Regions from separate parts of the Homo sapiens genome. Here regions 1, 2 and 3 are each linked to region 4. Evidence: fine-mapped expression QTL. A gene starts in region 4. Each other region holds a variant in brackets. All regions are shown on one strand. Distances are from middle to middle.

Region 1 (8,163 bases), 160 kb after region 4:
AAGTTTTTAACCAAAAATTTCTACCTACAGCATCAAGAGCTAATCTACTAATTCCCATTTCTGCCTGGGTCCCCGAAGCTCTGTTAGATGCACCATTCATTACCATTGGGCCTTCCCACCCAATTTGACCACTTGGGCCCATTTTGAGATCTTAGCAGTTTCCCCTTTTAAAAATACATCTGATCTGCCTAGTTGCCACTCCATCTAGTCTTAACTTTTGTCTGTTTTATACGATGGTCCTTTACTCAGCTAGCCAGCTCTCTCTTCCTTCTTATTCCATCATAACCTTGATCCAAGAATGGTTCCTTTACCCCCCAGTCAATACCTGCCTTTCCTCCAGTCATCCCCTCACATCAGCAGGAACCCTTCACTTTCTTCTTCCATTCCTTTCTTCCTCATTTTGCCCCAGAGAATCATGCTGCTATATCTTCTGTGTCCCTCCTTCTTTCAGCTGTCACCTGTGTGTCATTCTTAGGGACTCAATGGGTTCTTCTGGATACTCCCCTCCCCATGGGCACTCGCTGCTCAGCCCACTGCCCTCTGCCCTGTGCCACATTCTCCACTGTATTTGTCTGTGCTCTCAGATCTGCCTACACTTTCATAGGATTCTTGCCACTGGCCTGCCCTTTATGCCCATCCCATTTAGCCTCTCTCACCTCTCACCATACTGACCAAACCCATTACTTCTAACATTTTTCCAACAAAGCTTCCTGGACAGCAAAACCTTATGCCCTGGCTCTTACTTTGCCACCTTCTTACCTTACTCTCTCCTTGTTAATACACAACTCTGACAAATTCCCAACTCTCATTTCCTAATATTCCCATTTAGCCCTCTTTAATGCCCTTCCATATCTGTTGTTTTTCTGCACTGCATGTTCTGCCCCCTACCTCATTCACACGTTCTCTTTCCCTATTTAGCATCCAACCTCCATCTTTTGTTCTCTCCTTCTTTGCGATTTTTGCATATAAGTCTCCTCAGTTGCTTCTCTCACTTTTGGCAAGTCCTAATATGTTTTCTTAATTTCTGAGTACATCCTTAATGTCCCTCTCAGAACATTTTTCCAGATTTCCCTTTGGAGGCTTCCCCTGTATAGCCTAACCTTTCATAGTGATGGATACATATTCTTTTTGAGGTTTCCTCCCCTCATATCCCCACTGTCTCCCTCATTCAAAACCAGTTTTCTACTCTTCAGATAAGCCTTCCCTTCCCCTTAGATAGCATCTAACCTGGCTTCTTTATTTTCCATCATGACCTTTCGCCCAAGTATGGTGCCAAATACCTCCAGTTAGTATCATTGACACTTTTTTTGGTCAATACTAAGTGATGCCTTCTCGTCTGGAAGCAATTTTAACTTCACTATTGTACACCTTTTTATTTTGCCTTATAAAAACTATATTCAGTATCCCTCCTTCATTCAGAGACTGTGTATGTCAGTTCCATAGATTCAGTACTGTCTTTTGGATAAACAGACCCCTCACACTCAACACTCACTGTTCAGACTGCACACTGGATCTGAGATCCACAGCTTCCTGAACAGTGACCCCTCATAACCTCAATTCTTACCTAGCCACGTTCTCTCCTTCCTCTGTCTACTTGAGTGGCTGTGACTGGATTAACATAAAATCACTCTACCAGAGTTGCTACTCTCCCTGTCCCAGTATTCCTCATCCTGTCATGCTTCAGTGCCCTTCCTCACTGGCCTGCTTACTGTGCTGCAAGTTCAGCCTCCAGCCTCATTCATTTATCCCTTCCCTTTTGTACCCTCCATCACCTCCATTCTCTCCATCTCTCCTCTCCTTTCATTCAAGTCTCTTCAGTTGCTTCTTTTAATTTTCAGCTGACCCTAACACAACAGTTGCTAGCAGAGGCTCTTTATCAGAATTGTTCCTAGCCTGCCTTTGTCTAAAGCAGTGGTTCTCCAACTGCAGCTGGTTAAAACAAGCTGCAGGGCCTTACCCCAGGATGTGGTTTGGATCTGTATCCCTACTCAAATCTCATGTCGAACTGTCATCCCCAGTGTTGGAGGTAGGGCCTAGTGGGAGGTGACTGGGTCATGAGGCCAGTTTCTCATAAATGGTTTAGCACCATCCCCTTGGTGCTGTTCTTGTGATAGAGTTCTTACACGACCTGACTGTTTTCAGTGTGTGGTACCTCCTCCCACTCTCTATCTTTCTCCTGTGAAGTGCTGGCTCCCCACCATTCACCTGCCGCCATGATTGTAAGTTTCCTGAGGCTTCCTCAGCCATGCTTCCTGTACAGCCTGTGGAACCTTGAGCCAATTAGACTTCTTTTCTTTATAAGTTACCCAGTCCCAGGTATTTCTTTATAGCAATGTGAGAACAGATTAATGCACCCTGAGTTTCTGACTGACTAGGTCTGGGGGAGGGGAAAAGAATTCATATTTCTAACAGATTCCTAGATAGTGCCATGTAACACATTCTAAGAAGCATTGCTCTTCAACTTCTCCCTCAACCAAGCCCTTTAATTAAAAATCTCCCACTAAGGCATCAAGAGCGAGTCTACTGACTCATTCCTATTCAGGTCTTTCCTTCTCTCCCATATACTAGTCACTGCAATCTGGCCTTACACCCACTGAATTTGGCCAGTTGGGCCCATTCTGAGATCTGGCAGGATTCTCCAGGCATCTTTATGGCGCTGTGGTCTTTCTTATTACCACGCCACCTTTTCAGAATCATTATCTAGTTTATTTAATGCTCCCCTTAGCTTTAACCCCTCTTCATGTCTTTTGGCCCAAATATGGGACTGTCTCTCCAGTCAGTCCTGCCATTCTTCAAATGACCTTTTCATCTGGAGTCAACTTTAATGTTTTCTCCTATTCCTTTTCTCCTTGTTACCTATCTTGCCCTAAAGATGTACGCTACCTTATCTTCAGCCTCCCTTCTTTTAGCTGCTGTCCATATTTCATTCAGATGGACTCTGTCTCCTCCTGAATGGCACTTCCTAGCCAAATTCTCTCTAGTGTCTGTCTCTCATCTGTAGAAAATCTTCACATGACAGAGTAACTTCTAAGAGTAACTTTAATACCGCACTTACATGATATTCATTTGTTTCTCCCCTTTGGTGATTTGCCCTCCCTTAATTATATAGAGTAAAATTTCATCTACCATCTGTACCTGGAAACAAAGAAGTTTCACCCTTGAGATGGGTTTCCAACATGATCTCCAGCCACTCCTCTTCCAATATTAGTCATCCATTCTACAAACTACTCAAAGATCTATCCTGGTGTCTTTAAGTGCTGCCCTATTAGGGCTCATCTTAATCCATCTCCTTCTAATCCTTCTCATTAAACTTCTCACAAAAGCTTCGCATTACTTTTCAAGCACTTGTTCTTCTTCCATTGTATCTACTGCTTTTCAAAGTCTGCAATTAAGAGCCAACATTTGACTGAATAAACCCACATTTTTTAAGGGTTTACAAGATTTCCCATTCTGGGAAACACTTTCCTCATTTTACCTGTCCATGCCACTCCACCTACGCTTACCTACTCTTTGTATAGTTCTCCCTTTACACAGTTTCCAGTCTCTCCTTATTTAATCTTACACTTATGGGGCCGTATCCCTCCAGTCAATACCTGCCAATCTTCAAATGACTCCGTCTCTTCTGCAGGCTCTTCCACTATTTTCCCCAGTTGACCCTAGTAGAACAACTGTTAGTCACTTGTTTTTTCAGCTATCATCTTGTGTATCATTCTCATGAATTTAGTCTTTTCTTCCTCGTCACCTCCACACTACTCTGAAAACACTTGCACTTTCAGTTCATTCCAGACCTTCATAGGGTTCCTGCCACTGCCTATGGCAAGAATCCATTCCATTTAAACTCCTTGACCTTTCACTCTATTGGTCACACTTGTTGCTTCAAACATCATTCAAGCAAAGATTCCCAGATGGCACTTCCTCATGACACCAGTTCTTATTTATCTACTTACTCTTTGTATTCTCTTTCCTTCTTTGGTTGTAACCCAGCTTAACTCACATCTCTCTACTGCATATGCAGCTCTGCCATCTTCTGGTGTTCCTCATTCTGGCCCTCTTTAATGCCCTTCCCTACCCATACATATATATGTATATGTGTATATATATATATACACACACACACACATATATATATATATATACACACACACACACACACATATATATATATATATATATATATATATATATATTTTTTTTTTTTTTTTTTTAGACAGAATTATTTCACTCTTGTCACCCAGGCTGGAGTGCAGTGTGGCCTGATCTCGGCTCACTGCATCCTCCACCTCCCGGGCTCAAGTGATTCTACTGCCTCAGCCTCCCAAGTAGCTGGGATCACAGGCACCTGCCACCACGCCCAGCTACTTTTTGCATTTTTAGTAGAGATGGGGTTTCACCATGTTGGCGAGGCTGGTATCAAACTCCTGACCTCAAATGATCCACCTGTCTCAGTCCCCTGAAGTGCTGGGATTACAGGCATGAGCCACCGTGCCCAGCCCCTACCCACACTTTATATTCCACACTCCAGCCTAAATCCTACATCTTTTCATCTTTTAGCTTCCAGCCTCCATCTTCTCTTTCTCTTCCCCTGTGATATTTTCATTCATGTTTCCCTAGGAAATGTCTGTCACTTTTAGCCAATCCTCACATAGCAGAGTAACTTCTAGGCAACTTCAGTGGAACACTGTGCAATAGTCTACGATATCTTAACTGTCAGTCATCCTTTCACTTGCCATCTCTCTCTTTTTTCTTTTTTTGAGACGGAAACTCACTCTGTCACCCAGGTTAGAGTGCAGTGGCGTGATTTTGGCTCACTGAAACCTCCAGGATTACAGGCATGTGCCACTACGCCCAGCTAATTTTTGTATTTTTACAAAAATTTTTAGTAGAGACGGGGTTTCACCATCTTGGCCAGGCTGGTCTCAAACTCCTGACCTCAAGTGATCTGCCAGCCTCAGCCTCCCAAAATGCTGGAATTACAAGTGTGAGCCACTGCACCCGGCCTTACCATCTCTACAGAAATAGATATAGACTTTTTTACTTCACTCTTCATAATCACCCATTCCCCATCTAGTAGCAATAATCCATTCTCTGGACAAACTACATGTTCACACTCTCTTAATAAATCAAGCCTAATATTTCTAAAGTTGCCATCTATAGCTTTTTTGTTGTTTTTTGTTTTTTTTTTTTAGATGGAGTTTTGCTCTTGTTGCCCAGGCTGGAGTGCAATGGGGCTTGGCTCATGTTAAATTGTCAGAGTTGTATATTAACAAGGAGAGTTGTGTATTAACAAGGAGAGTTAACAAGGCTCACCAACTCGGCTTACCACAACCTCTGCCTCCTGGGTTCAAGTGATTCTCCTACCTCAGCCTCCCAAGTAGCTGGGATTACAAGCATGGGCCACCACGCCCGGCTAATTTTGTATTTTTTTTTTTTTTTTTTTTTTTTTAGAAGACACAGTGTTTCACCATGTTGGCCAGGCTAGTCTTGAACTCCCAACCTCAGGTGATCCACCTGCCTCAGCCTCCCAAAGTGCTGGGATTACAGGCGTGAGCCACTGCACCCGGCCCATCTATAGCTTTTTATCAGCATTCATCAGTTTATAACTTTCCTATCAAGCAAGTCCTTTAATTAGCCATTCCCTCAAA[A/C]GCTTTAAGAGCTAGTCTGCTGCTGCCTCCTACTGAATTCCTTGCTCCTTAACCCTTTCTGTGTATTTCCCATGCAGCCGACCATTTAGACCTAGACAGGATACCCCATTCTAAATCTTTATTCCACACCTGCTCTGCCAGTAGGCCCTTCCTTATGTAATATTTTCTTTCCTTTGCTTCCAGTCTCTTATTTCATACTCTCTTATGACTTTTGGCCCAGCAATGCTGTCTTACCTTCCTGTTGATGTGTGTCATTCCTTAGTGACCAACTCCTTTTCATCTGAGGACAACTCTAATGTTGCTTTCCAGTACCATTCCTCCTTCCCTTTCTGAATTTGTCCTAGAGAAAAACTCCCTCCCACCATTTGTACAGCATTCCCACAGACTCAACACGATTTTCCAGGTAGGTGTGTATTGCTTATTTTGGCACTCACTGCCCAGCTTTCCTCGATGTCCTACACACTATGCTGCACCCATTGCTTCTCAGTTCAGTCCAGACCTGCATAGACTGCTGCAGTTAGCCTGTACAGATCCATCTCTTTTGCCTTCTTTCTAATCTTTTGCCCTAGTGACATACCCTTTTCTTTAATTATTATTCTAACAAAGCTTTCTGGAAATACCTCATAAGTGTCTCTTACTTTGTCATGGTCTCCCCCAGGTGGTTGAGACCTGGCAGCTCCCTCCCACCTTTCCCACTCTGCCCTTTGCCACACTGCATTTTCTGTACCCTGGCCCAACTCACATGTCCCTCTCCTGTCTTAGCTGCCAGCATCTATCTTTTCTCTAATTCGCTGGGTTCTTTTCATACAAATCTCCTTAGTGGTTGACTCTCATTTTCAGTGAATCCTCACAAGACAAGCTTAATTTCAGAGAACAGTTTTAATGCAGATCTTCAGGGCATTCTTTCCTGATTCTCTTTGGTATTTGCCTTGCTTTGTCTGTGTAACTCTCATATTTACATTATGGCAGTGCATTCAGTATTTTCTTGCCATGGAAAGGCCCCCGCATCTTGCCTCCTCGCCCCATTTCGTCATCCTCTCCAGCAGCTTCGACAGATTACTGCCTAGACTTCCTTAGATCCCTGTAACCTCTCATTGTATCAATCAAACCATTTAAGTAAAAAAATTCCCACTAAGGTTTCAGGAACATTATCTCTACTAACACCATTCCTATTTACTTCCTTAATCTCTTTCTCTGTATCAGGTCCTTATATGTAAGTGTCTTCTGTCTTTACCTCCACATAAAACTCAGCCCCTGTGCCCAGTCTGTGATCTGCCTTCATACCTGATGTTGTCTCTTTGTCCTCCTCATTTGCTGTAGCCTCTCTGCTTAATTGGAACCACACTGGGTTGCTATAATTAATGTCTCTCCTGACTCTTCATTCTAACTTGATCATGACCTTTTCCCCTACCATATTCTGTATCTCTTTCATGGTTTAAAAAAAATGCCTCACCTGACCTGTTCTGGCCTTGTGTTAACTTTCACTTCTTTCCCCTTCTCTCTGAAGAAAATCCTATCCTAATTAAACCACAGTCGTTCTTTTCTCAACCCCTAATGGCATTGAAATTGATTCTGCAGGCTTGATAGGTTCATTCTTTCCTATATGGGAAAACCCACTGCCATCGTCTGTTTTCAGCATATTCTGTTGAATCCATCTGCTCTCTGAATTCAGACCCATTCTTCATAGTCCCCACCAGTGGCTTAAATTAGGCACCTTATCTAGCTTATCTCTAACCTTTCAATCTCTTGACTGCCTCAGCTCACCAGAGCCTGTTGGAAAATCATTTGAAATACAAGGTATTTTACAATTTATTCCTAAACAAATTATCTTCTCAGCACCTAGGCATTAGCATGCCTCTTACTGTTTCCAGCTGCCCGGTGGACTTTCTGGCCTCTTTCCTTTTGCCTGTTTGTACATCTTCCTCTGCTTGCCAAAGCTCTTTTGCATCTTTTGAGAGCCAGTTAAACTATTATATCGTTTCACATTTTTTACAGTTTTCCCAGGCTATTTGTTAATCCCGCACCCTCACATGGCACTCTCTTAAAACTTAAAGGATCTATGGCATTGAGTTGTAAAGTCATAGATAGATCACACACACACACAGCCCACACACTTATTTAACTCCTAGACAGCTCCTAGAGACAGAGATCATGTCTCAGTCATCTTTTTATCCAAGTGTCTGGCACATAAGCTTATACCTTTACGTGTAATGTCAACATGTATTGACAGTCACTACATGTGTGGATGGATGAATGGATGGAATTTAAAGTCAAGACTGAGCAGATGAAAGTCTTATTACCCAATCTGTCGTATATGGTCTTCACATCTGAGCCTGTTCTTTCCTCTCCTTGCCTATCCCCCAAATAACTTTTTAACTCTCCCAATATCTAATATTTTTTGTACCTATAAGCTTTTTCCAGACCATAGACAAGATCCTAAATGCCTTTTCTTCATCCCTGCTTGCTAAATCCCCTCCTTCAAACATTTCAGAAAATACTGTCTTTACTTTTTATAAAGACT
Region 2 (8,163 bases), 170 kb after region 4:
ATGGTCAGTGGGCTTTTAGGCTAGTGGCATCAGTTTCCCAGAATCAGACTTTTGAAGATGAATGACTTTGGAGAAGCAAATTAAACATTTGGCCCTGAGCCAGCAGATCAAGCAAATGTCTATCTTTGCGCATGGGTTGTTTTTTTTTTTTTTTCTTTTTATTCTACTTGGTCAGCTTTGGGACGATAGTGCAGCTTTGGGTGATCTTGAAAATCAAATACTATCCTATACTCCAGCTGCTTAACTTCATTTTATTCTTTAATGTGTACCTGAAAGCTCCTGGCAATGCTGGAAAATTTTTATCCCAGAGGGGTGGGGGGGAGGGGGGAGGGGAAGCCAGAGTCCACTTTTGTCACAATTCATTTTTATTAATAGAAAATAAACACTTATTCCAGTTTCAAAGTTGTTATACTTGAAGTTGCTAATTTAAAAAAACGAATTTTAAATAATCACTTAATAATCCTGCTTTGACTAAGACAATGAAATGTGGCTTTAAAAAAAAAGTATTCAGCACCATTTGCTCATAGGTCTTTCAGAGTTTGTTCTTAAAGTTTCTGGAACTTTCCTGTCTGTAAAGTAACAGGAATTACTGAGCTACATTGGAAAGCCTCTCTGGGACAGGCAGTGGGGAGTTAAGCAGTCATCATAAAGGAATCAGTGTACATTCAGCATGGTGACTTGACTACACAACAATCCCTTCCCCTCTACTGTAGCTCAAGAGAGACATGCTTCTAACCACTGAGGTATGAGGAGTCTCAGACTGTTATTTGCTGTTAGAATTGGTCTTCCCAGCTAATAACAGTACATCTCTGGCACAGATGCTATTGGTCCTTAATGTCCTGTGATTTTAGGAAATAGTTTGGATTTAGTTCAATTTATTCAGAAACCAAATGTGTTTAATTAGCTTCACTACTCTGGCAGAGTAAGGGTATGCTGGTTTAGTATCTTTATAAAATATATATAATGTATAGGTAAATCATAGTCTTAAATCATACCTAAAATACTGTATCATTTAAACCAATATCTATTTTAACAAAATGTTTATAACTAAAAACAGCTGATGAAACACTAAATCCAAAGGTATGACAAAGAGGACTCAGCTCTGTGTTGCTTAAAGAACTTTTAAAAGGCATGTGCCCATAACGTCATTCGAGGAGAGGGAAGGAGCCCCCCTTCTCCTCCTCCTTACTATAGAATTCCTGTTGGGGGTGGGCCAGAAATTAGCACTTCTAAATATTTCAGAGAAGTCCAAAGTGTTAAAAAAAAGTCTTTTATGCAAAAGAACGTCTTTCTGCATCAGTGAATAGTAATGCTCATCAGAATTTCCTAATAGCACAAAAAACAAAGCCAAGTCTATACATTTGATCAGATATCAAAGTAATGGGAGGTGGACTATTATGTCAACCTTAGTCAGAGCTCCTGCTGGCTTCTTCCTATACACTGTTCACCAATTTGAGTAAAGTGGACTTTGTGAGAGAATTATGTTTGATGGCCAGGACCTCTTTTGGGCATTTCTTCCTAAGTGGAATACACAACACATAAGGGAGTAGGGGAGGTAATACAGGGAAGCTACTCTTTCCAGCTCAGAAGGAGTTGATGAAGCCCATATATGCATTCAAGAAGCCCATGGGATCCTCTAGCTGTGGATAGTGGCTAATGTGGTCATCCAGAATCGACACTGTGGACCGCGGCAGCGTTTTCCTAGTGGAAGAGAACAGCACGCAGGTGAACTTGAGGCTGGAGCGGGAGGGATGTAAGCCAGTGGGAAGCCCCAGTAAATGACCCTGTGGACACACCACACTGGAAGGAGCCACCAAAGAGCTTATTCACCTTCTACTCTGAAATTGTATCTTAGGCAGATAAACTTGCCAATTCCATTTATACAAACTAGTTTTTAAATGTTCATAATCCAACAAACAACAACTTGAAAATATAACACTTTTGCAACAATTGTCAAAGCAAGATGACTTTCAGCTCCTTAGAGAAGGATGAAGCATCAAACAAGTGGATCACACAGCAACTCACTGCCCAAGCAGAGATAACCAAGGATCTTCCCTTAATCCCAGGAGGAGATGAGAGAGGGGGTATTTTATTTAAAATTATATGCAAGCTGTTTACTACTAGCTTGTATCCAGTAGGCCACAGGAAGGTATGGAACATTCTTATGTGACATAATCAAGATTTCATATTCTGATACCTTCCAAGTAAGTACCTAGAGAGAATAGCAACCAATGAGAAGGCACTTTTCCACAATGAGCTCTTCTCAATCTCTCCTTGCCATCTGCTCAGCCTAAACCAATGAATTGGCTTTACAATCAGACTAAAACAAACAAACACTTTGTAGGTATATCCACTTTCAACCTTTGACTCACATGAGAGCTTTTTGTACACCAAGGAATATGTAGCAGTCATGACAGTGAAAACAGACTATGTATAAATCAAGAGAACGTATAACTGAATGTCTTGATACTACAATTATGTTAGAATAAGATTCCTCAACTCAATCTTTTTATTGTTTCCTGGATGAACAGCCAGCGAGGTTAAAGACAATGGCTAGAGCCAATAGCCCTCAACAGGCAATTCTGTTTACCACTGTCAGGATGAGATACTAACAAAACATAGACTTCTCTCGGGGAGACTCACCTGTACAGCTCCAAAAACTCTGGATAGGGATTTACAGGATCCAATGGCCCATAGATAAAATGAACTAGAAAAGAGAAAAGGAATGAAATACTTAACAGCTCTCACATCTGTTCTACTCCCACCCTAAAATTAACTCCTCTCCGAAAAGAAATGTTTTCTTCTTCCTTTTTTTATTATAATAGGCAAGGTCTCTCTCTCCCTTGCTCAGGCTGGAGTGCAGTGGTGCAGTCATAGCTCACTGTAACCTCAAACTCGTTGGCCCAAGCGATCCTCCCACCTCAGTGTCCTCAGTAGCTGAGACTACATACAGGTGTGCAACACCACACTTGGCTAACTTTTAAATTATCTGTAGAGAAAAATTTTTCTCACTATGTTGCCCAGAGTGGTGCCAAACTCCTGGGCTCAACCAGTCCTCCC[A/G]CCTCAGCCTCCCAAAAAGCTAGGATTACAGACGTGAGCATCCTCACCCAGCCCAAGAAAATATTTTCTATAAATAATTTTTTGTGTGATACAAAACCTAGCTTGTTTTATTAGGTAACCTCTAAAAAACTGCTAGGCACGTACCAGTTCATTCATTGGACACATCTCCTCCTACAGACAACCATTTGGTCCCTCATCCAGCTCTCCTGCACCCTGGACCAAATGGGATATGCCCAACTTTCAACATCCTCTAAGTCCAGGATACTATCATTCTTTAAGTCTCTCTTCAGTTATAACAGACCCTTGACATTTGAAATCAACCAATAATTTCCTGAGCACTAATCACTATGTGTGAAACACCATAATTTTTTTTTAAATCTGTAAGAATGAAAAGACAAATAAGCACAAACCACCTATAGCCTCTTGATTAGTAATCCAAACAGCCTTCTGTCCGAGCAATTCAGCATGTAATGTGGCAGTCACTGACAATGCACACCACAGAAATCAGTAATACCAACTACCTTTACAGTAATGTCTCAGCTTTTTATATACTTCACTCTACACACACACATCACTGTTCCAGATGTCATGAGTACAGTTGCCAGTAAAATAAAGGATACCCAGAAAATTTGAATTTCAGGTGAAAAATGATTTTTTTTTGGTGTAAGTAGGTCCCAAATATTGTACAACATATACTTAAATACTAAAAAAGCATTTGTTGTTTATCTAAAATTCAAATTTAACTGGGTATCTTATATTTTTATTTGCTAAATCTGGTAACCCTAATTGTATAAAGGAGTTGCGATTACTTTAACCCTATAGTCCTTCAGTTTCCTATCAATAATACAAAAATACTCACTGGGGATAGTTACAGAGGCAAGAGCTCCCACCCAGCGCCTTCTGAACTTCTTCCTCTGATTGATGTACTGTAAGAGACTGTAGGACAGGTAAGTCAGCATGTGCAGAACAAGAAACCTTTACTGTTACAGGGATTCAAGGGCATAACGAGCCACAAGGAACACAAGATACAATTTCTTAATCCAGAAGCAGTTTAGCATTCCTGGAAATGTCCCACTTAATTTATCCATTTCTGTTAACCTCTAGAGTTAACCACCATGTAGCTCTAGTAGTGATTATGCCTACTATCAATATAAGAATTAGTGGGTTTGTGTATTTATTAAGCAGGGAATGAGATCTAGGAAGGCTGACAGTTGGTTTGGATTTTATGTAACTAAAAAGCCCAGGTCTGAGGTTCCAATTTAGGCTCCACCACTACCTACCTCTCTGACTCAAACATATAACACAGATCTTTCAACTCGGTTTCCTCATTTGTTGGTTTGTTTTTTAAAAGACAGGGTCTCCCTATGTTACCTAGGCTGGAGTGCAGTGGCTAGTCACAGGTGCAATCATAGCTCACTACAGCTATAACTTCTGACCTCAAGAGATCCTCCCACCCCAGCCTCCCAAGTAGCTGGGAGTACAGGCATGTGCCAAAGGACCTGGCTAGCCTCCTCATTTTTAAAATAAGAGGATTGTAACACATGATCTTCTGTGTTGACATCTACTTCTTTTTTTTTTTCTTTTTTTTTTTTTGAGACGGAGTCTCACTCTGTGCCCAGGCTGAAGTGCAGTGGCATGATCTCAGTTCACTGCAACCTCCGCTTCCTGGGCTCAAGCAATTCTTGTGCCTCAGCCTCCTGAGTAGCTGGAATTACTGGCTAATTTTTGTATTTTTAGTAGACACGGGGTTTCATCATGTTGGCCAGGCTGGTCTCTAAACTCCTGACCTCATATGATTCGCCCACCTTGGCCTCCCAAAGTGCTCAAATTACAGGCGTGAGCCACTGTGCCCAGCCGACATCTACTTCAAAATTCTAAGTGTAGATGTTGATGAGCACAAAGCTTCATCTGACCACAGATAAAATGGAGAGGATTCCTCTTTCTCCAGCGTAAGACACCACTGCCACATTTTAGAACTCAAACTCATGTATTCTACTCATTCTGCCTGGCAACTCCAGGACAGTTATTTTTGTGAACCTCAAATATCTCATCTTACAAATAGTATTTACTTTTTGGAAAGGAAAATATAATTTTAAAAGACAGTCTTAATTGTTCTTCAGTTTTTTAATACTAAAATGAAATATTCAGGGATCCTGTTGGGGCTTAGGAGAGGGTGGGAGGATTGGCTCCCTCTAACATACAATCCCCAGCAAAGCCATCAGTAAAAACACTGGAAGCTACACTGAGCCAGGTGGCTAGAAGTCAGAGTCTTATCCCAAGTAGTTACAGCTATCACCACCTCTGGGTCCCTTGTGAAAGTGTCTACATTCTCATTTGAACCAAGGCATGGGAATTCTTTGTACAAGACAGAGAAAGAGAAGTCTGCCCTCTCACTCCCCGTTGCTGCAGAAAGATAGGCAAAAGGAAGAGCCTTGTACCTTGAGGGAGGCACTAGGCTACTTTCACAACCATGATTCAATACTTTGAAGCATTTAATACTAACAAAGAGTCCAGTTTCACTCTTATTTTCTATTTCTTTCTTCATATAGACCATGACTTTTTGGTTTGCCCCATAGGTCATCATCAGCCTTCCTGTGATAGGGAATAAGCCAGCAAGGAACAGAACAAGCAATCCCCACTCTCCACAAAAACACGTCTCTGGAAACCAAAGCAAAGGGTAACTTCTTACCTGTCAATGACTAAGTTCCCGTCATTGTTGCGGATCCCTGCCCACATGTCCCACAGCTCACTCTCAGAGGGCCGAGTATACGGCCCAAAGACTGGGGTGAGACTGAAAGAGTCCAAAACGCAGGAAGATAAGTGTGAGGAGAACTCAGAATGTTCAATATGGCTGGAACCTCAGAGGCCATGCAGTCTGGGCCATGCAGTCTGACCCATAAGTGATTTATGAATTCCTTCTACTTCCCTGGCAAGCGGCCAACACCTTTGCTTTAAAATATCAAGCCTTAGGATTTGGCCCAGAATTGTAATGGCAGCAACTTTTCACGACATTGCTCTAGGCCACAATCTTTGACAGTGACACTTACCCTCGAGAGAATACAAAGAAGTTCATCAGTCGTGTGAGGATGGGTGACAGCACACCTCCATCTTTGAGTAGCTGGAGGGGAATAAGTGGAGGTAAAGCTCAAGAACCCAGAGGAAGATCCTCACCGGGGCAAAAGGTTTTATACTAGGAACTAAATCTTTAGCCAAATCTCCTGCTACTGAATGGTTTGGTACTTGGCATTTTGTTTTGCCTACCCGCATTCTTCTCTCAAGGAAGACAAATCTATTTCTAATTCCATCTAAGATTACTTTTCTACAATTCACTAAATCCCTAAAACTTTAACTCTGATATATTCAAGTTTAGAGTAGGATCCTAATTTGTTCAAACATCAAGCTTGTGACACAGATCTTTCCATAGCTGTAATTTCTCCAAATATTTGTTGATCTCTTATTCTTAGGATTGGTTTTGGGTTTACGTAGGGGCCACTGCCTCTGCTTTAGTTGCCTAAGAAGGGAAAAAGTAACTTCATTAATAGAAATTCACAAGGAAGAGGATTTAACTACTGCCAGTTACAGGAGCTATGGCCCTTAAAAGGTCCCAGCATTATTTACGTCAGTACAAATCCTAAAACTAAAGGTCTATCAGTGAAGTACCAACCTTTTGGAGAAGGAGTGGACGGTGAGTCTCAGGAAAGATACCTGTAGAAGAGACTTATCTTAGTCATTTACCTACAGCTTTAATTTTTTTTTTTTTATAGAGACGGGATCTCACTGGGTTGCCCAGCTGGTCTCGAGCTCAAGCAATCCTCTCACCTCAGCCTCCCAAAGTGCTGGGATTACAGGTGCAAGCCACCTCACCCAGCCTACCTACATTTAGGTCAAAGGCAAGCCCATTATCAGAAACTACCCACCCTATTCACCATCACCTCTGCAGCCTTTACTACCAAAACAGAATTACAAATAACAATTTAAAACTGTCATCTAATTACTTCTCCAGGAATTCTGTGTTTAACTGGTCACAATAAATCCCACTGGAATTACTTTTCCCATCTTAAAGATAGTGAAACGGGGAGAAAATATATGGTCATCCAAAATGCTGATAACCAGGCTCTGACTCCCCTTAGCATTTCCCCCTATCACTCAGAACACGAGGGTTAATGATTTGGGCTGTAAGAATAAAACAAGAAGTTTTTAAATAAGTATAGGTCCTTTAAAAACCCTAGAGTTTTTCCTTTTCCCTTTCTCTTCAGAGTCAGTGGAAGAAAGCCATGAGCATAAGTGATAAAGGGAGAGACGGATTTCTCTCCCAGTCTGCTCTTAAGGCGTTCAGGAGACATTTGGATATTCATGAACTTGCAAGCTGGCTACCCAGAAAGTCTAATCAGGGGTTCGGTATTTTCTAACTGAAACTTGGCACTGCCATCAGTTAGGAGTTGGGGAATCTCATACAGTTAAGTCCTCACTTAACATCAGGATAGGTTCTTGGAAACTTCGGCTTTAAGCAGAATGAGGTACAGCAGGTCCTTGAATAACATCCTTTCTTTAAAACATTGATGAGAAAAAAAATTGGTTCCATTATAACGTTTCATTTAAAGTCACAGTTTCCAAGAACCCATTGATGACATTAAGTAAGGATTTTCTACACTAACATCATAGTAGTATTAGAAACACTTGTGGCTTTTTTCTGTATCTTCAATCCTACACTCTCATAACCTATTGCAGTTGTTTCAGATATGGCAAACAGTCTTTACACTCCTCACTCCTTCTGATATAGCTGTTACTAGGTCCTCCACTAGAACTTGCTATCTAATGCATTGAAAAAGCACATGTGACTATAATGCAGCTTTTTATTGACTATGTAAGTAAAGTCACTATCCTTTGTAATGCTGTTTGTTTCTTTATTTTAAAACATTCTGAGAAAGGGTCCATAAATCTTGTCAGACCACCAAAGGAGTTGATGGCACAGAAGAGGTAGAGATCCCATAGTTTAATTATGTCTACTTGAAATATTATCAGATTACCATTTAGGTGCCGCTGTATCTAAAGATGGCCCTTCTAGATTACACCCACTTTCTACCTACCGCCAAGGCAATTACC
Region 3 (8,163 bases), 63 kb after region 4:
TACTAAATCTGGTCTCAAGTCACAGTTTGCTTACTGCATGCTGATCCGAATTGCCAGTCGCTTACTAAAAGAAACTGAGGATGGGTAAGTGTCTTCACCTAAACCTGGGTTATTTTCCATTTGCGAAGTTAATATACCTTAGAGTTTATTTCCTTTTTGAATTTTTTTTGGGGCAGTGCTAACTTTACAGATGAGTTCAATGTTTTTCAATTTTTTAAAAAAATTATGGAATTTCAAGTCACACTTTTTTTAACCTTACTGTATGCTCTTGTATATGTACTTAATTATTAATAGCACATTAACAAACTGATATTGAACAAAAAATATATGCATTGATCATAAGATATATAGATAATTAAATATGAAAGTTGGCAGGGACATTAAGAATTATCCTATCCCTTTTATTTTTATAAAAGAGAATGTTGAAGTACTGCATTTAGTGATTTGCCTAAGATCATTCCACAAGTCTGAGGCACATAAGATGTGACCAAATATACTTTAGCAGTCTTTCGAAGGCTAGGGAAGGGCAGGAATGAGAAATCTTTTGAGGTATAGTAAGCTGGGCATGGATCTAGGGAGCAAAGAAGACCCCTTCCCCAGCCTGAAGGCTTATGGCTGAGCTCTAAAACAAAGATTTCTTATGTGGCCTGGCAAACTGAGGTGTAACACAGAGAAAGATCTCTAGAATCTGCCACTACTACTAATGCCCTGCTGAAAGGGGAAACCTGATCTGTTCCTCAGATCATTTGTAAACAGCAGATAACTGAATTTAATTAAAGCTGCAGCAAAGTCCTGACCCAGATCAACTATTAGCTGCTAAAAATGAAAAAGGACCTGCACTTTTCTAATGATAAGTATTAGTTACATCAGTGTCTACTGCACCTTTATAAGCAGTGTCTAGCAAACAATCAAAAAATACAGAGGCAGTGACATGTAACCCATAAACAAGAGGGAAAAAAATAGTCAGTAGAAGCTGACTTACAGATGACCCACATATAGAAATTAGGAGGCAGTGACTTTAGAAATTACTAGGCAGTGACTTTTAAACAACTTCTCTAAAGTGAACACCAAAGGAGTTTTGTAAAGTGAACTTTTGTAACTTTTGTAAATTACATCTTTCCACTAAAGAGTGGAAAAGATGGACAAAATGTGTAAATGGGTAAGGAATTCAATAGATAAATAGAAACTAGAAAAAAAATCTTGAACCAAAAAATACAATATCAAAAATAAAAATTTATTTGAAGCACTTAATAGCAGATTGGACACAGTGGAAAAAAGATTAGAGAACTTAAAGACAAGTCAATAGAAATTGTCCAAACTGAAGCATAGGGAGAAAAATAAGAAAAGAAAATAAAAGAATAGAACATCTGAAGCCTAGGGAATATATCAAAAAGTCTAATACTTGTGTAATGAGTCTCAGAAGGAAAGGAAACAGAATGGAATAGAATAAATCTTTGAAGAGATAATGGATATGTTAGTCCATTTTCATGCTGCTGATAAAGACATACCCGAGACTGGGCAATTTACAAAAGGAAGAAGTTTAATGGACTTACAATTCCACGTGGCTGGGGAAGCCTCACAATCATGGTGGAAGGCAAGGAGGAACAAGTCACGTCTTGAATGGATGGCAGCAGGCAAAGAGAGAGAGCGCTTGTGCAGGGAAACTCCCATTTTTAAAACCATCAGATCTCATGAGACTTACTGTCATGAGAACAGCATGGGAAACACTTGCCCCCATGATTCAATTACCTCCCACTTGGTCCCTCCCATAACACATGGAAATTCAAGATGAGATTTGGGTGGGGACACAGGCAAACCATATCAATGGATGAGAATTTTCCAAAATGAATGAAAGGGGCTGGGTGCGGTGGCTCATGGCTGTAATCCTAGCACTTTGGGAGGCTGAGGCAGGTGAATCGCTTGAGCTCAGGAGTTCAAGACAAGCCTGGGCAACATGACAAAACCCCATCTCTATCAGAAGAAAATACAAAAATTAGCCAGGCATGGTGACGCAGGCCTGTGGTCCCAGCTACTCAGGAGGCTGAGGTGGGAGGATCGGTTGAGCATGGGAGGCTGGGAGGCAGAGGTTACAGTGACCTGAGATGACACCACTGCACTCCAACCCGGGTGACAGAGTGAGATCCCCATCTCAAAAAATAACAACAACAAACCCAAAATGAATCCAAGATGGCCAGTGACACTCAAGTAGGATAAATAAAAACCACACCTAATCATAACCTAGTCATATATATTACAAGTAAAAAGTTGAAAACCAAAAGAGAAAGAATGAAAGAAAAGCTTGAAAGTCGCCTTTTTTTAAAAAAAAGACAAATTAGATTCATTAGATTCAGGGAAACAAAAATAAGAATCGTTGACTTCTCATTAGAAAAATGGATACGAGAGGATAATGGACATCTTAAAATTGTTGAAACAAATAACTGAAAATCTGGAGTTCTATACTCTAAAAGTATTCTTCCAAATGAAGGTGAAATTAAAACATTTTCAACCAGGAAAAAACAAAAACCCGAAAGGATTTGTGTCTGCATACCTGCATCATGAAGGATGCTAAAAGGAGTTTTTCCAGCTAAAAAGAAATGATAGTAGATGGATGCCAGGATCTTCAGGAGGAATGAAGGACAAGAGAAAGGGTAAATGTGTAGGTAAATTAAAAGGTAAATATGTAGGTAAATTATAAATATATACAATTTTTACTAAAACCAGCAGCAAATTATGGGGCTTATATATATGTAGAAGTGAAATATATGAAAATAGTAGTATAAAGGGCATGAGGGAGAAAAATGGACATTTGTAAAGTTTTTGTATCATGCAGTAGTATATTATTTGATGATACACTGTGATAAGGATGAATATTGTAATCTCTTGAGGATGAATATTATAACTAACAAAAAAATCTTTGTAAAACATATAGATCTTAAATGTCAACAGAGAAGATAAAATGGAATATTTAAAAATATTCAGTTGAGCTTCCTCCTTCCAATAATGGTGTAGCTT[G/A]GCCAGCTTAATCCTCCTGCAAATAATAATTGACATTAGTACAAAGCTATACCTTCCCAAAATGAAGATAACCCACAACAGTATGAAAATATTGGGGAGTGGTGAAAAGCAAGCAAAAACTGGAGGGAAGCAGTTGATGCCTGAAAGACAAAAGCTATACTGGGTGAAATTTGTGGGGTTTTTTTGCTATTCTCCTGAGGGCATTCTGTAATTCCTCAGTGTAGGATGACAGAAAGCTACAGTATTTCTGGACAGAGTGGTCAAAACAGTTTGAGGTTGGAAGAGTAACTGAAAACTTAGAGTGGAAAACCTGGAAAAGAGGGAGCCATAAAAGGAATGAGTCTCAAAATGAATTTTAAACTCTACAAAAATCACTGGCTGACCAACTGAACTACATATATACAGGAGAATACTCTAGGAGACCTGCCAAAAGCAGTAGTTGTAAGATAAAAGAATTGAATGGAGAATTCAGCTGCAACTCACTATGGAGGAAATAAAGTTTGGAGTTTGATCCCAGCCAAGCTTCTTGCTAAAGAAACTCCATGAGTTCTAGAGTCTTTACAGTATATCATTACAATGTTTAATAGATGGTAAAAATTGCCAGAAGTACAAAGAATTTGGAAAATGTGACTAGTAGCCAAGAGAAAAAGCAATCAATAGAAACTAACCCTGATATGATCCAGACATTGGAATTAGCAAACAAAAACTTTGTAGCATCTATTATAAATTTGTCCATGACTTTATTTATTTATTTATTTATTTATTTATTTATTTATTTATTTATGACAGTCTCTCTCACTCTGTTGTGAAGCCTGGACTGCAGTGGCGTGATCCTGGCTCACTGCAACCTCTGCCTTCCACGTTCAAGCAATCCTCTCACCTCAGCCTCCCAAGTAGCTGGGACTACAGGGATGCACCACCACACCTGGCTAATTTTTGTACTTTTTGTAGAGATGGGGTTCCGCAGTGTTGCCCAGGCCGGTCTCAAACTCCTGAGCTCAAGCAATCAATCTGCCTCAGCCTCCCAAAGTGCTGGTATTATAGGTGTGCACCACCACAGCCAGCCTTGTCCATGACTTTAATGGAAAATAGTTACCATGAATGAACAGGGGAAATGGAAACGACAAAAAGAGCTAAGTAGAAATTCTAGAGCTTAAAAATACTCTGTCAGGATTCAACCAGAGAAGTAGAACCTGGAGGATATAAATATGTAGAGATTTGTTTATTGATTATGTAATTCGGGGGCCAGCTAAGCAAATCTAAAATTCATAGGATAGGCTGTCAGGAAGGGAAGATTGCAGGGAGGCTGGAACTCAGGGGCACAGGCCAAAGTTGCTCTCCGTAGGTGAAATTTGTCATTTCACATTTTACTGTAAACAGCAAGATAAAACTGGGTCACATCTTCATTTTTGGAATTTTCCTCAAGTAAATATCCAACTTCATCGTTTACAAGTTCTGCTTCACAAATAACTACAGGGCACAAATTCACTAAGCTCTCTGCCAATACATAATAACAAGGATCTACCTTACTCAAGTTTACATTAATGTGTTTTTTACTTCCTTCTGAGCCCTCACTACAGCATCTTTTAAGTCCAAATTTCTGTAGGCAGTTCATAAGCCCTGACCAGCAGTGTCCTTAAGAACCAGATCGATTGATCTTTCTTTCTCCTTCCTTCCTTCCTTCTTCCTTCCTTCTTTCTCTTTCTTTTCTCTTTCTTTCTTTTCTTTCTCTCTCTCTTTCTTTTTCTTTCTCTTTCTCTTTCTTTCTCTCTCTCTCTCTCTCTTTCTTTTTTTTATTTATTTTAAAGTCTTGCTCTGCTGCCCAGGCTGGAGTACAGTGGCACAGTCTCAGCTCACTACAACCTCCGCTTCCTGGGTTCAAGCCATTCATATGCCTCAGCCTCTTGAGTAGCTGGAACTATAGGCATCCCAGCACTTTGGGAAGCTGAGGTGGGTGGATCATTTAAGATCAGATTTCTTATAAGTCTCTTCAAAACTAGGCTTCCTCCATCATGCTCCTCAAAATTCTTCCAAGCTTCCACCCAGTGCCTAATTCCAGTCAGTTCTACAATTTGAGGTATTTGTCGCAGTAACACTTCACTTACAGGTACCAAAATCTGTTAGTTTTTTTTATTGTTGCCATAACAAATTACCATTAAATGTAATGGCTTACAACAAGATCCATTTATTATCTCAGATCTGTAGATTAGAAGTCTGACACAGGCCTCATGGGGCTAAAGTGAAGATGTTGGTGGAGTGCTGTTGCTTACTGGAGGCTTTGAGGAAGAATCCACTTCCAATCTCATTTAAGTCGTTGGCCAAATTCATTTCCTTGAGACTGTAGGTTGTAGGTCTCTGTTTCCTTGCTGGCTTTCAGCTGGAGGTTAGTCTGTGCCTCTAGAGGTTGCCTGTATTCCTTCTCATGCTTTCAATGAGCAACTAAAGGCCTCTCTTTGAGTCCCTTGCATGTTGATTCATACGTGTCAGAGCCAGCAATAGTGTGTTGAGCTGCACTTTGAATCTCTCTGATTTGCCTTTCTGCCACATTTCTTCTGCCTCCTCTTTCAGCACATCTGCTTTAAAGTGCTCATGTGATTAGATTGCACCTACCTGGGTAATTTAGGTGACAATCTTAATTATATCAGCACAGTTCCTTTGCCATGTTGTAACGTAACATATTCATCAGTTCTAGGAATGAAGACATAGACATCTTTGGGGAGCCATTCTGCCCCAGCAAGTGCAATAACTGAATCAGATAATTTGCTGAATGGACTTAACAGCAGATTAGAGATGGCTGATGAGAGAGTCAAAGAGAGTTAGTGAATTTGAAGATAGAGCAGGAGAAAGTAGCTAGTTTGAAGAACAGAGAGAAAACAGATTAAAGAAAATAAAGAGCCTCGAAGAACTGTGGGATAAGATCAAGTGGCCTAACACATATGTAATTGGAATCTGGAAGCAAAGGTGATAGAATGGAGCAAAAAAGATATATGAAGAAATAATGACCAAATATTTCCCAGTATGGGTTTATTCTAGTAGTATAAGGTTGATCTAACAGTAAAACATAGCATAATATACCTCATTTTAAAAATACAGAAGAGTCTTAATGCCTTAATGGGTGCAGAAAAAAGCGGTTGATAAAATTTAATGGCAATTCATGATTGAAATCTCTGCCACCAGGACTGGAAGGGAACATGATTATTCTGACAACAGTACAAAAAAACTCCACTAAACTTTATACTTATTGGTGGACTATTAAAAGCTTTCCCCTAGAGATTGTGAATGAGACAGACAAAAATGCCTGCTATTTTTATTTTTTAAATAGTATTTTGCTAGAAGGCTTACTTTGTGCAATAAGTGAAGAAAATAAAATACCTAAAAATTTGAAAGGAGGACGTAACACTATATTTGGAGATAATATGGCTATATATATAGGAAATGCAAAATAAACTGTACATTATCTATTAGAGCTCATATGTAAATTTACCAGTGTTGCTGGTCAATATCCGAAGTCATTTTATTTCTTATTCCAGCAACCCATCAAAAAGATAAAATTTTGTAAAAATGGTACAATTTATAATTATATTGAAATCAAATCCTTGGGAATGTATCTACTAAAATTTGTGTATATCTCTACACAGAAAATTACACAATATTAAAGTATGACCTAAGTAAATGAGGCATATAACATTTATGGAATATTCAATATTGTAAAGATACATCTTCTTAAATTGACCTATGGATTCCACAAACCCCTAATTACAATCCCAATTGGCTTCTTATAAATAACCAAACAGAAATGCCTACATTTGTGTGTTAAAAGACATACAGTTGATCCTTGAACAACATGGGTTTGAACTGCATGGGTCCACTTACACATGGATTTTCTTCCACCTCTGCCACCCTTGAGACATCAAGACCTCCTCTTCCACCCCAGCCTACTCAATGTAAGATGATGAGGATGAAGACCTTTATGATGATCCACTTTCACTTAATGAATAGTTATATCTTCTCTTCCTTATGATTTTCTTAATATTTTCTTTTCTCTAGCTTACTTTATTGTAAGAATACAATATATATTACATATAACATAAAACGTGTTAATGAACTATTTTTGTTATCAACAAGATGATTAATAGTAGGTTATTAGTGATATTTTGGGGGAGTCAAAAGTTACATGTGAATTTGCAGCTACATGGGGGTTGGCACTGTTAACCCCATGTTGTTCGAGGATCAACTGTACAAGATGCCTATAGTACTGTTATTCATAATTGCCGCAAATTTTTTTTTTTTTTTTTTTTTTTTTGAGACTGAGTTTTGCTCCTGTTGCCCAGGCCAGAGTGTAATGGTGCCATCTTGGCTCACTGCAACCTCTGCCTCCCGGGTTCAATTGATTCTCCTGCCTCAGCCTCCCCAGTAGCTGAGATTGCAGGCACGCACCACCACACCCTGCTAATTTTTTGTATTTTTAGTAGAGACGGAGTGTGACCATGTTCGCCAGGCTGGTCTTGAACTTCTGACCTCAGGTGATCCACCTGCCTCGGCCTCCCAAAGTGCTGGGATTACAGGCATGAGCCACCATGCCCAAATTGCCACAAAATGGAAGCAGTCCAAATGTCTATCAGTGCCAGAATCAAAAAATAAATTGTGGTATATTCATATAGTCAGATAGTATACAATAATGGAAATGAACAATTACTGTTAAATACAATCACATAAATACATCTCACCAAGAAGTCATACACAAATGAATACATTTTATATAGTTCCATTTATGTTTATTTTAGACTTAACATAGGCACAACTAACCTGTGGTATTGAAAGTTAGTATAGTGATTATCTCTGAGGTAGGAGCACATTAATTTTGTAGTAATTCACGTATGATTTTCATACTGTCATGTGTAACACCAGATTAAAGGGATAGTAAATATTTATTTTTCCATATAATTTTTGCAGGTCAGGGGTTTGGGAATGTCTTAGCTGGATGGTTCTTATTTGGGGTAGAAAAGTTGATAATTCTGAATTGATGTTTACAAATAATTTTTTTTTAATTAGAAGCTCTAAAATTCCAGAGGATGACAACATGAGAAATAATGGTGTAGAAGGTGGTATTAGTTTATGGCCATACCACCTTAAACAAGCCAGGTCTCATCT
Region 4 (8,163 bases):
TTGCCGCACATTAGTTAGAATATGAACTGTAGCTTTCTCCAATGAGATTAAAAAAAGAAAAAGGAACCCAATGCCATGTCATATGAAAAAAAGTTCAACACATTGGCAATGTTTAGCCTGGAAGAGACAGAGCTTAGGAGGAATGTGATGAATTCCTTCAAAATGTTTAAGGACTCTATGGAAGAAGGACTAGATTTGTTCCTTCTGGACTATAGGGTAAAAGTTACAGGGAGATATCTATTGGCTGATCAAAGGTGAAATCTTTTTTTTTTTAGGTAAAGAAAGATTGAGCACTTGATAGTGAGATTATGGAAGGGCTAGGAGGGACAGACAAACAGACTGGATGACTTAAGATTCTTTCTGAAAGACTTTGATTCTATGACCTTTAGTAATGGTATAATTATTACTTCACAACATCCCATTCCATGGCCTTCTCATTAAGGAGAATGGAATGTGGATGAGGCAGCCATCTCCAAGAAAGGAAGGTAAAGTCCCATGGATCTATTTCCCAATTTATTGCCAAATACTTACTTCCCCAAGGACTTCACTGGTTGAATCCTTCCCCAAACTGGGTAACTTTCTCTGCCATTCACTTCCAAGGGCCAGTAGGCAAATTTAATCAATTACTTAGGAAACTGAACAGGTTTTGGACAAGTAATCTGGCAATGAAAAGAGTGTTTTCCCTCCCAGGGAACGGCTTCCTCTGATTCTGGTTTCTGAGTTCCCACTTCCCCCTCTGACAGGTTTTGTTGCATGATTGTAGGGGAATTGGAACTTAGTCCAGGAACTTGGTCCAAACTTAAAATCCCAAGGGACTCAGCTTACTCCCTCACTCTTCTTCCCTCGTTTCCCTACAGGAAAGTCATCATCAGCACAAACCCACTGAGAACCTCTGGCTGCCCCGCATGCCTCAGAAAAAAAAGTTAAGATCTAAGCTGAAACCAATCTTCCCTTTGATACTGTCGGATGATCCCACATCCAAGCGAGAACAATGGTTTAGGTGAAATCTTGCTTCTTCTTGTACTTGCTTTCTTTCCTATCTTTTCCCTATTCACGTTTCTGGTTCTTTGCCATACAATTTAATGACATATTCTTTGGTCGTACAAAGATAGTAAGACACGACTTTCCCTACATGACCCTAACCTCATTGACACATGAATCAAAGAGAAACAGTCATGCAAAACTAAGGTTTTGCACTGGCAATGGTTTCAAGATTGAGGGGAAATATTCCAAGGTCTGTGCTTTGAAGAAACAGGAAAAAAAAAAAAGTACCCTCAATACAAGTTAGGCGCTATATCACAGGAACCATGTGCTATGAGAACACATTAGACAAAAGAGGTTTTATGTGAAACTACTTACAAGAGCAGCCTATGTGTAGTTTAGAGAGGACAGAAGAGATTCTGGAGTTCCTCCAAAGGTTTACAGTGTTAAGTTCAGAAGCATCCCTTGTCACGGAACAATATTCCTACTTGGCACCAATCAACAGGCTCCTATCATTGTCTTGTCTTCTCTGAGAATGTAGCCAACTTTAAAGTGAATGGTGGGGCTGGGCGCGGTGTCTCATGCCTGTAATCCCAGCACTTCAGGAGGCCAAGGTGGGCAGATCACTTGAGCTCAGGAGTTCGAGACCAGCCTGGCCAACATGGTGAAAACCGTCTCTACTAAAAATACAAAAATTAGCCAGGCGTGGTGGCAAGTGCCTGTAATCCCAGCTACTTGGGAGGCTGAGGCAGGAGAATCGCTTGAACCTGGGAGGCAGAGGTTGCAGTGAACCAAGATCATGCCACTGCACTCCAGCTTGGGTGACAGAACAAGACTTGTGTCTCAAAATAAATACATAAAATAAAATAAAATAAAATAAAATAAAATAAAATAAAATAAAGTGAATAGTTCCATGAATCCCCCTGCCCTAGGATCTACTAAACAAAGAACTTTCTTTGTTAAGGTTTTCCACTGACAATGATTTCAAGAGCGAAGGGAAGTATTCAAAAGTCTACGCTTTGAGGACACAGAAGAAAATGTACCCTCAGCTCACCTTTGCTCCAGTCCATGAGAGAGATATGAGGAAAGATGGTAAGCTCCTCTCTTTCAAAGCAAAGGCTTACTGGACTGAGATTTGGGCTGGAGATACAATCCATGAGGATTATAGATGTGGCAAACTGGCTTCTCTCGTGGTAGTCCTGGAGACTATTTTTCCCTATAGCATGGAAGTTAACAACAAATAGAGGCTCAAAAGGTGCAAAGCTCTGGACCCTGTTTAAATCCTCAAATTTCAAGAAAGCTCTAGCAGTGTTTACTAAGCTATATCACCCAGCACTTTAATAGTTTTTGCCATATTGATGTATTATTTGCTGTTAATTTACTTAGCATTTTTTAAAAGGATTTTTAAAAAATCTTGTCCTAATTAATACTATATCATTGATATCATGGTTTTGATGTACAAATTATATGCTTTTCTGAAACACTTATATCAAATTTATAATAATGAAATTTTAAAATGTTTATCTATGTACCACCTAGAACCACCCAGTGGTATGCATATTATACTTTGAAGAAAAAACTGCTCTAAAAGGGCCAAAGGATAAGTCTGTGTGTCTTAGAGGTACAAAAGTCTCTGGGATTGGGGTAGGGAATGGGGTAGAAGGGGCTTGGAATAAGGTTGTATGGCAGAGGGTACAATGAGAATCCTCCTCACATATTATCATTTATTTAACAGTATTTCAAGGGTTCCTACTAAGTGTCTGACACTTACCAAGCACCAACAATATCACTTTCAATATGTGAAAGAGATGAAACAGATCATAAAAGGCCTTGACAGGCTGGGCGTGTCCGTAATCCTAGCAGTTTGGGAGGCTGGGGCAGGAGGATTGCTGGAGGCCAGGGGCTTGACACTAGCCTGGGCAACATAGTGAGATCCTGTCTCTACAAAAAATAATTTAAAAAAATTTAACAGGGTGTGGCGGCATGCACCTGTAGTCTGAGCTACTTGGGGGGCTTGAGGAAGGAGGATTGCTTGAACCTAGGAGTTCAAGGTTGCAGTTAGCTGTGATTATGCCATTGCACTCCAGCCTGGGTAACAGAGTGAGACCCTGTCTGAAAAACAAACAAACAACAATAACAAGAAATCGAAAATACCACAATGCCTTAAATATTATTTAAATAAAGGTTTGGGTTTTATCCAGTAGGCAGTTTGGACCCAATGAAGAATTTCAGGGCACTGAGTACACATTTGTGTATTAGATATATATAATTGGTGGGTCCTCAGACTTCACCAGCTCATGGTTTTAAGATAAGGTCCATTTCTCCTACTGGGTTTCTCTCCTCAAACAATTCCTGAGACTCCCTAAGGTATCCTTGCCTGTCCCACAAAGCCATTGCAGTGATTGCTCAACCCGTCTGCCAGCCATCCTCAGTCCAAATAGTCCTGATACCGAAGGCCTGGGGTCATATTATACCATCCCTTAACTGGCTTCTTCAGGCTTCTCTGCTCCTGCTATACCTATCTGCCACCACATCCCATCCCATTTCCACCTACTGATGCTCTTAACTCCGTAAATACTGCACAGCTAAAAACAACCTGTGGTATTAAACAAAACTTCATAGATATACAGAAAAGCTGAAGAACAGCAGAGAATGATTGATCTTGCTTTACAAGGGGCTAGTCTTAGGGTCAGCCCCAAATCTGAACTCAGGTCCTTCTACTTCTCAGCAGGTCTCCGGGGCATTACCCACCTTGAGAACCTCTGGGCCTATTATCTACACTGTCTCTGCCTAGGTTCCCAATACCCTTGGGCCAAGGAAGAGGAAGAGGATGTTTCCTTCCCCAAAGCCTGTTTATTTTCACCCCCAGAATAAATGAGTGCAGACTTCTATTTCCTTCAAAGAAAACTCCACCTACAAAGTATGACTTGACCTTTACAAGCCATATAAAGCAAACATAGTAGTTAATAGTACATTTAGTCAAGTCGGAGTTAAATCTTAAATGATACCATATGTAGGATATCAACAGTTCATCTTAAATCTGTATTTCAGGGAAAGAATTTCTCTAGGATGTAGAATGTAATCTAGGTTAGAATTTCTCTAATTTTGCAGGGGCACGATCCTGTTGAGTATAGACCCAATTTACATTTCTAAACAAGTTATGCCAGTGAAGCCAAAGGCAGACAAAGTTTCTTAGCTACACTCTTAGACAAGAGAACAGAAAGCCAGCATACACTCTGAGAAAAAGAGGAACATGAGTTAGGAATGAATGCACGTTAATTTAGTGAGTTTCTTAAGTGTCAATATGGTTTCAGATGGAATCATTGAAAGAAATAGGCTTGAACAAGGAAGACTCTAAACTGGCAATGAATTTTCCACTGGGTTTTGATGAAATGAAGGAATCCAAAAATTATAAAATAGGTTGGGAATGGTATTACACGGTCCAAAATCTACCCTCTAAAGACCAGCCTCTGGTCCCTCCAAGTGCGTCTCCTTTACATCTCACATTAAGTATCCTTCGAGTACTTCTGAAAAGCCACATTCACCAGGGTGCCTGTGCTTTGTCGTAGCTTCCAAGAAGTCAGCGAGTGAAAGGCCAATTTCCAAAGTGATTCGGGAACCACTGACACTCGCATCGCTCTTGGAAGACATGCCCACCAGAACCGCGCCCGGGGAGAGCGCCTTCCGCAACGGGAGGGCCCCGCAGTGGATTATCAAAAAGGCCACGGTCATCGGGTGAACACAGACCCCTCAGTCCTCCCGCCTCGCTCTCTTGAGACTGAGGGGTCCGCAGAAGTCGCCACCCAAATAAAACCACATTCCTGCTGCTGCGGGCGTGGGCTCCCGGGTCGCAAGCCGGGAGGGTCGAGCCGAAGTCTCCGGCGGGCCGCAAGAGGAGAAGGGGGCGTGGCTGCGTCCCGGGGGCCGAGGGCGGCCGGGGAGGGCGGGCCTTGGCCCCGAGTGAAGGCGCGGCGGCCCAACCGGCGTGAGAGCGCGGGGCCGGCCTTCCTGCAGCCTCTTCCGCTCGCCGGCTGCGGCGCCTGGGACGGTTGCGGTGGGTCTGGGCGCTGGGAAGTCGTCCAAGATGATTAAAAAATTCGACAAGAAGGACGAGGAGTCTGGTACGCGCGGGGCTTCCGAGGCCCACCCTCAGCCGCGGGACGCCCCTTCCCCCGCCCGCCGCCACCTGCTTTCAGGCCGGCGGGGCTGGGGGCGTGGGCGCCGCCGTGCCAGGGGGCCGGAGCTGGAGCCGGCCCCTCCCCTCCCCTCGCGGCTGCCCGGGGCCTGCCCGTAGCCCCTCCCCCGGGCGCCGGAGCCTCCCTTCGGGCCGCGCGCTCCCGCCCCGGCGCCCGCGCGCGCCCCGTTCCCGCCCCTCTTGCGGCGCAGCCCCTCCGAGCCGCCTCCTCCCCTGCGCGCGGGCCTCCGGCGGGGGCCGAGGGCGTGCGCGCGTCTCCGCGTCCAGGGGTGCTGGTAGGGTCGGACCCCTAGTGGGAGCACCCTGTTCCCGGGGCTGGGGTCGACGGCACAGGGTGTGTGTGGAGGAACGTTCAGGTGCCTGGTACCTTATCGTTTTCCTGGGGTCACCGGCTCTGTCCAGGTCCCCGGGGGCAAGACTGTCCCGTGGGACACAGCTCGTTGAATGCTCAGGTGTCCAGAAGTGACCTGCGTCTTGATGCCCGTCTTTGGTCCAGAGCAAATGGGGAAGATGCCAAGCATCCTCAAAAAGAAAAAAATTCTCAGTGTTTGGTAGCATCTCCCACAGTGTGAGAGGGGGTTGGGTTAGTCAACCTCCATGGCCTCTTGCACCTTTACGCCTGCATGATTCTCTGGGAAACTTCGTTTCTGCCTCTCCTTAAGTGTTAGAAACACATAAAATACTGCTTACCTAAGGAAATCAAAAGCACCCTACTACAATCTCATTAATCTTCGTTGTTGTGGAAATGACACATTTTTAACATTCATGGAAAAAGAGGGCAGGGAAAGAAGACACTCATTTTGGAGAGGGTTGCTGCGAAAGAGAAGTCTCAGCTCTTCGAGTATGGCAGTGACAGAGCCGGGATCAAAATGATTTCATTCAGTTCGTATGCGTATTAGCCATGATTATCACTGTGCCATCCAAGTGTTCACTTCCCAAGCATTCAGTACCCTTCTCTGGAAAGTATATAAGTTTGTGTAGAACAGCTGTTCAGGACATTTTTTTGTTTTGTTTTATAAATAGGTAGTGGCTCCAATCCTTTCCAGCATCTGGAGAAGAGTGCTGTTTTACAGGAGGTATGACTGGGAAGTATCTTGTGCCCTTTCTTTTCTATTCTGTTTTAGAGTGGTGGGCAGAGAATCCCTGGGCTGCTGTGATCACGACATGCAAAACAAGAAACGTAACAGAGTTTAGGGAATATAGATTTGAGGGAAAAGAAAGAGGGGTTACTTGTCACAGGAGAATTTGGAGCTTATAGAAATGCAAAGACATGAAGACTGTCACAGGTTGGGAATTTTAAATGTAAGAACAGGTGTTTAGTGCAAGGTTATTGAAATCAGTTATCTGTATTAATCTCATTGTATTAGTATGATATAGATAAGTATTGTGATCCTTATTTAACTGGTATAGCCCATAAAGTTGAAGTAGTCAACCTAAGGGAATGAGAAAGTATAGGATGGAAAATCAAGGCCACGTGTAATAATTTATCAGATACCTTAGTAAATTGAGAACTATAGACAATGTTCTTTGGATACCGTGATTAAAAATAGTCTGTATTAAAGTTGATTTGCTATAATCTGTGATAGAAAAGGTAGAAAAGTAGCAATGTTTTTTATGTTTTTTCATAGGCTCGTATATTCAATGAAACTCCAATCAATCCAAGAAGATGTTTGCATATTCTTACAAAGATTCTTTACTTACTGAACCAGGTATATTATTTTTATTTTCCTCAGATAAGTGTGTCCTGGAATAGAAATACTGAAGATTCAGTGAAATACTTTCTGGAAAGTATATTTATTTATTTTAAATTCACTTAATTTTAACATATACAACGTTTGGTTAACAAAATAATATGTAAAACTTGAGTACGAGGACTATGACATATACAGGTTGAGTATACCTTCTTTGCAATGCTCGGAACCAGAAGTGTTTTGGATTTCAGATTTTTTTGGATTTTGGAATATTTGCAGAATACATACTCACTGACTATTGCTAATCTGAGTATCTGAAATCCAGAATGCTCTGATGAGTGTCTCCACTGAGTGTTATATTGGCACTCAAAAAATTTCTGATTTTGGAGCATTTCAGATTTTGGATTTTGAGATTAGAGATGTTTAACCTATACTTCCTTTTTATTCATGAGATCCTAAACCAGTGATGCGCATAGTAGATTCTCAATAAATCCTTTGGTTTCAATTTAATGAGTACTAGTTAGAGCATGTTGTTTACATGTATTTGGAGATCTTCATGTTTTTCTGAAAATACAGTGCAAGATCAGGCAAATTCCAGATATTTTCTTTTTTATGTGTGTAATGATGTTTTAAAGCTTTGATTGTTAATATTCAGATTTTATATTTATTATCCCTATGCTACCATTACTAGCAGAATAATTCTGGGCAGTAGCTTAACCATTTTATGTGCCTTGATGTCCTTTTCTCTACATGGGGATTATGATAATACCTGTTACAGAGTTGTAATGACTAAATGAGATAATTAGTGTAAAGCACTGAGAATAGTCCTGAACATACAGTAAGCATTCAGGAATAGTTTTCCTTCCGTCATTCAGCAAATATTTATTGCGTAGCTGCTGTGTGCTGTGCACTGTTTTAGGTGTTGGGGATATAGCAGACAAACCAGCAAAAATATTTGCGCTCATGAAATGTAGATTCTGCTTGCTGCTGTTGTTATTAATTTTTCTTTTCTTTTTCTTTTTTTTTTTTTTGCCCCAGACTTAAAAAAAACTCATGAAATGTCTAGGGCCTTAGAAAATATGATTTTGTTTCATGGATTCATATTCCCTCAGTATCAGTGGGGAATTGGTTCCAGGACCTCCATTGGATACTAAAGTCCATAGATGCTCAAGTCCCTCATACAAATGGTGTAGTATTTGCATATAACCTACACATATCCTCCCATATATAAGTTGTCTCTGTGATTATAATACTTAGACTATAATCTCTAGATTACAATACCTGGTGCAATGTTAG

Which allele goes with the higher level. Alleles are on the strand shown, and positions count from the first base shown. SD is a standard deviation of normalised expression in the study named. Not every link is listed here.
As copies of C replace A in region 1, the expression in cerebellum of the gene that starts at base 4,986 in region 4 goes down (moderate effect, 0.47 SD a copy in GTEx).
For the expression in ovary of the gene that starts at base 4,986 in region 4, allele G in region 2 goes with a higher level than allele A (small effect, 0.39 SD a copy in GTEx).

What was found. PIP is the estimated chance that this variant, and not a neighbour inherited with it, causes the effect. A credible set is the group of variants that fine-mapping cannot tell apart.
Region 1: its variant is the best candidate, but not a certain one, in a credible set for the expression of COPG2 in cerebellum (GTEx, PIP 0.52).
Region 2: its variant is the best candidate, but not a certain one, in a credible set for the expression of COPG2 in ovary (GTEx, PIP 0.87).
Region 3: its variant is the best candidate, but not a certain one, in a credible set for the expression of COPG2 in whole blood (TOPMed, PIP 0.70).

The regions. Positions count from the first base shown.
Region 1 is chr7:130,509,333-130,517,495 of GRCh38, reverse strand. All of the region lies in intron 20 of COPG2 (coat protein complex I subunit gamma 2), which reads left to right. Among named protein-coding and RNA genes, the nearest start is that of MIR335, 17 kb to the right of the region's middle. The variant A/C (reference allele first, on the strand shown) is at 5,643.
Region 2 is chr7:130,498,477-130,506,639 of GRCh38, reverse strand. It overlaps MEST (mesoderm specific transcript), which reads right to left. Exons shown (of 12, transcript NM_002402.4): 6 at 8,163; 7 at 6,725-6,765; 8 at 6,108-6,178; 9 at 5,750-5,851; 10 at 3,920-3,996; 11 at 2,644-2,707; 12 at 175-1,701. The coding sequence ends at 1,584. It overlaps COPG2 (coat protein complex I subunit gamma 2), which reads left to right. Exons shown (of 24, transcript NM_012133.6): 24 at 1-402. Among named protein-coding and RNA genes, the nearest start is that of MIR335, 6.4 kb to the right of the region's middle. RefSeq lists an enhancer at 1,390-2,589. The variant A/G (reference allele first, on the strand shown) is at 3,061.
Region 3 is chr7:130,602,874-130,611,036 of GRCh38, reverse strand. It overlaps COPG2 (coat protein complex I subunit gamma 2), which reads left to right. Exons shown (of 24, transcript NM_012133.6): 9 at 1-84. It also overlaps the pseudogene RNA5SP246. Among named protein-coding and RNA genes, the nearest start is that of COPG2, 62 kb to the left of the region's middle. The variant G/A (reference allele first, on the strand shown) is at 3,013.
Region 4 is chr7:130,665,571-130,673,733 of GRCh38, reverse strand. It overlaps COPG2 (coat protein complex I subunit gamma 2), which reads left to right and starts at 4,986. Exons shown (of 24, transcript NM_012133.6): 1 at 4,986-5,102; 2 at 6,200-6,252; 3 at 6,805-6,885. The coding sequence starts at 5,066. It overlaps TSGA13 (testis specific 13), which reads left to right. Exons shown (of 8, transcript NM_052933.4): 6 at 858-1,000; 7 at 1,946-2,073; 8 at 4,551-5,091. The coding sequence ends at 4,720. RefSeq lists silencers at 4,614-4,723, 4,814-5,403 and an enhancer at 5,674-5,783.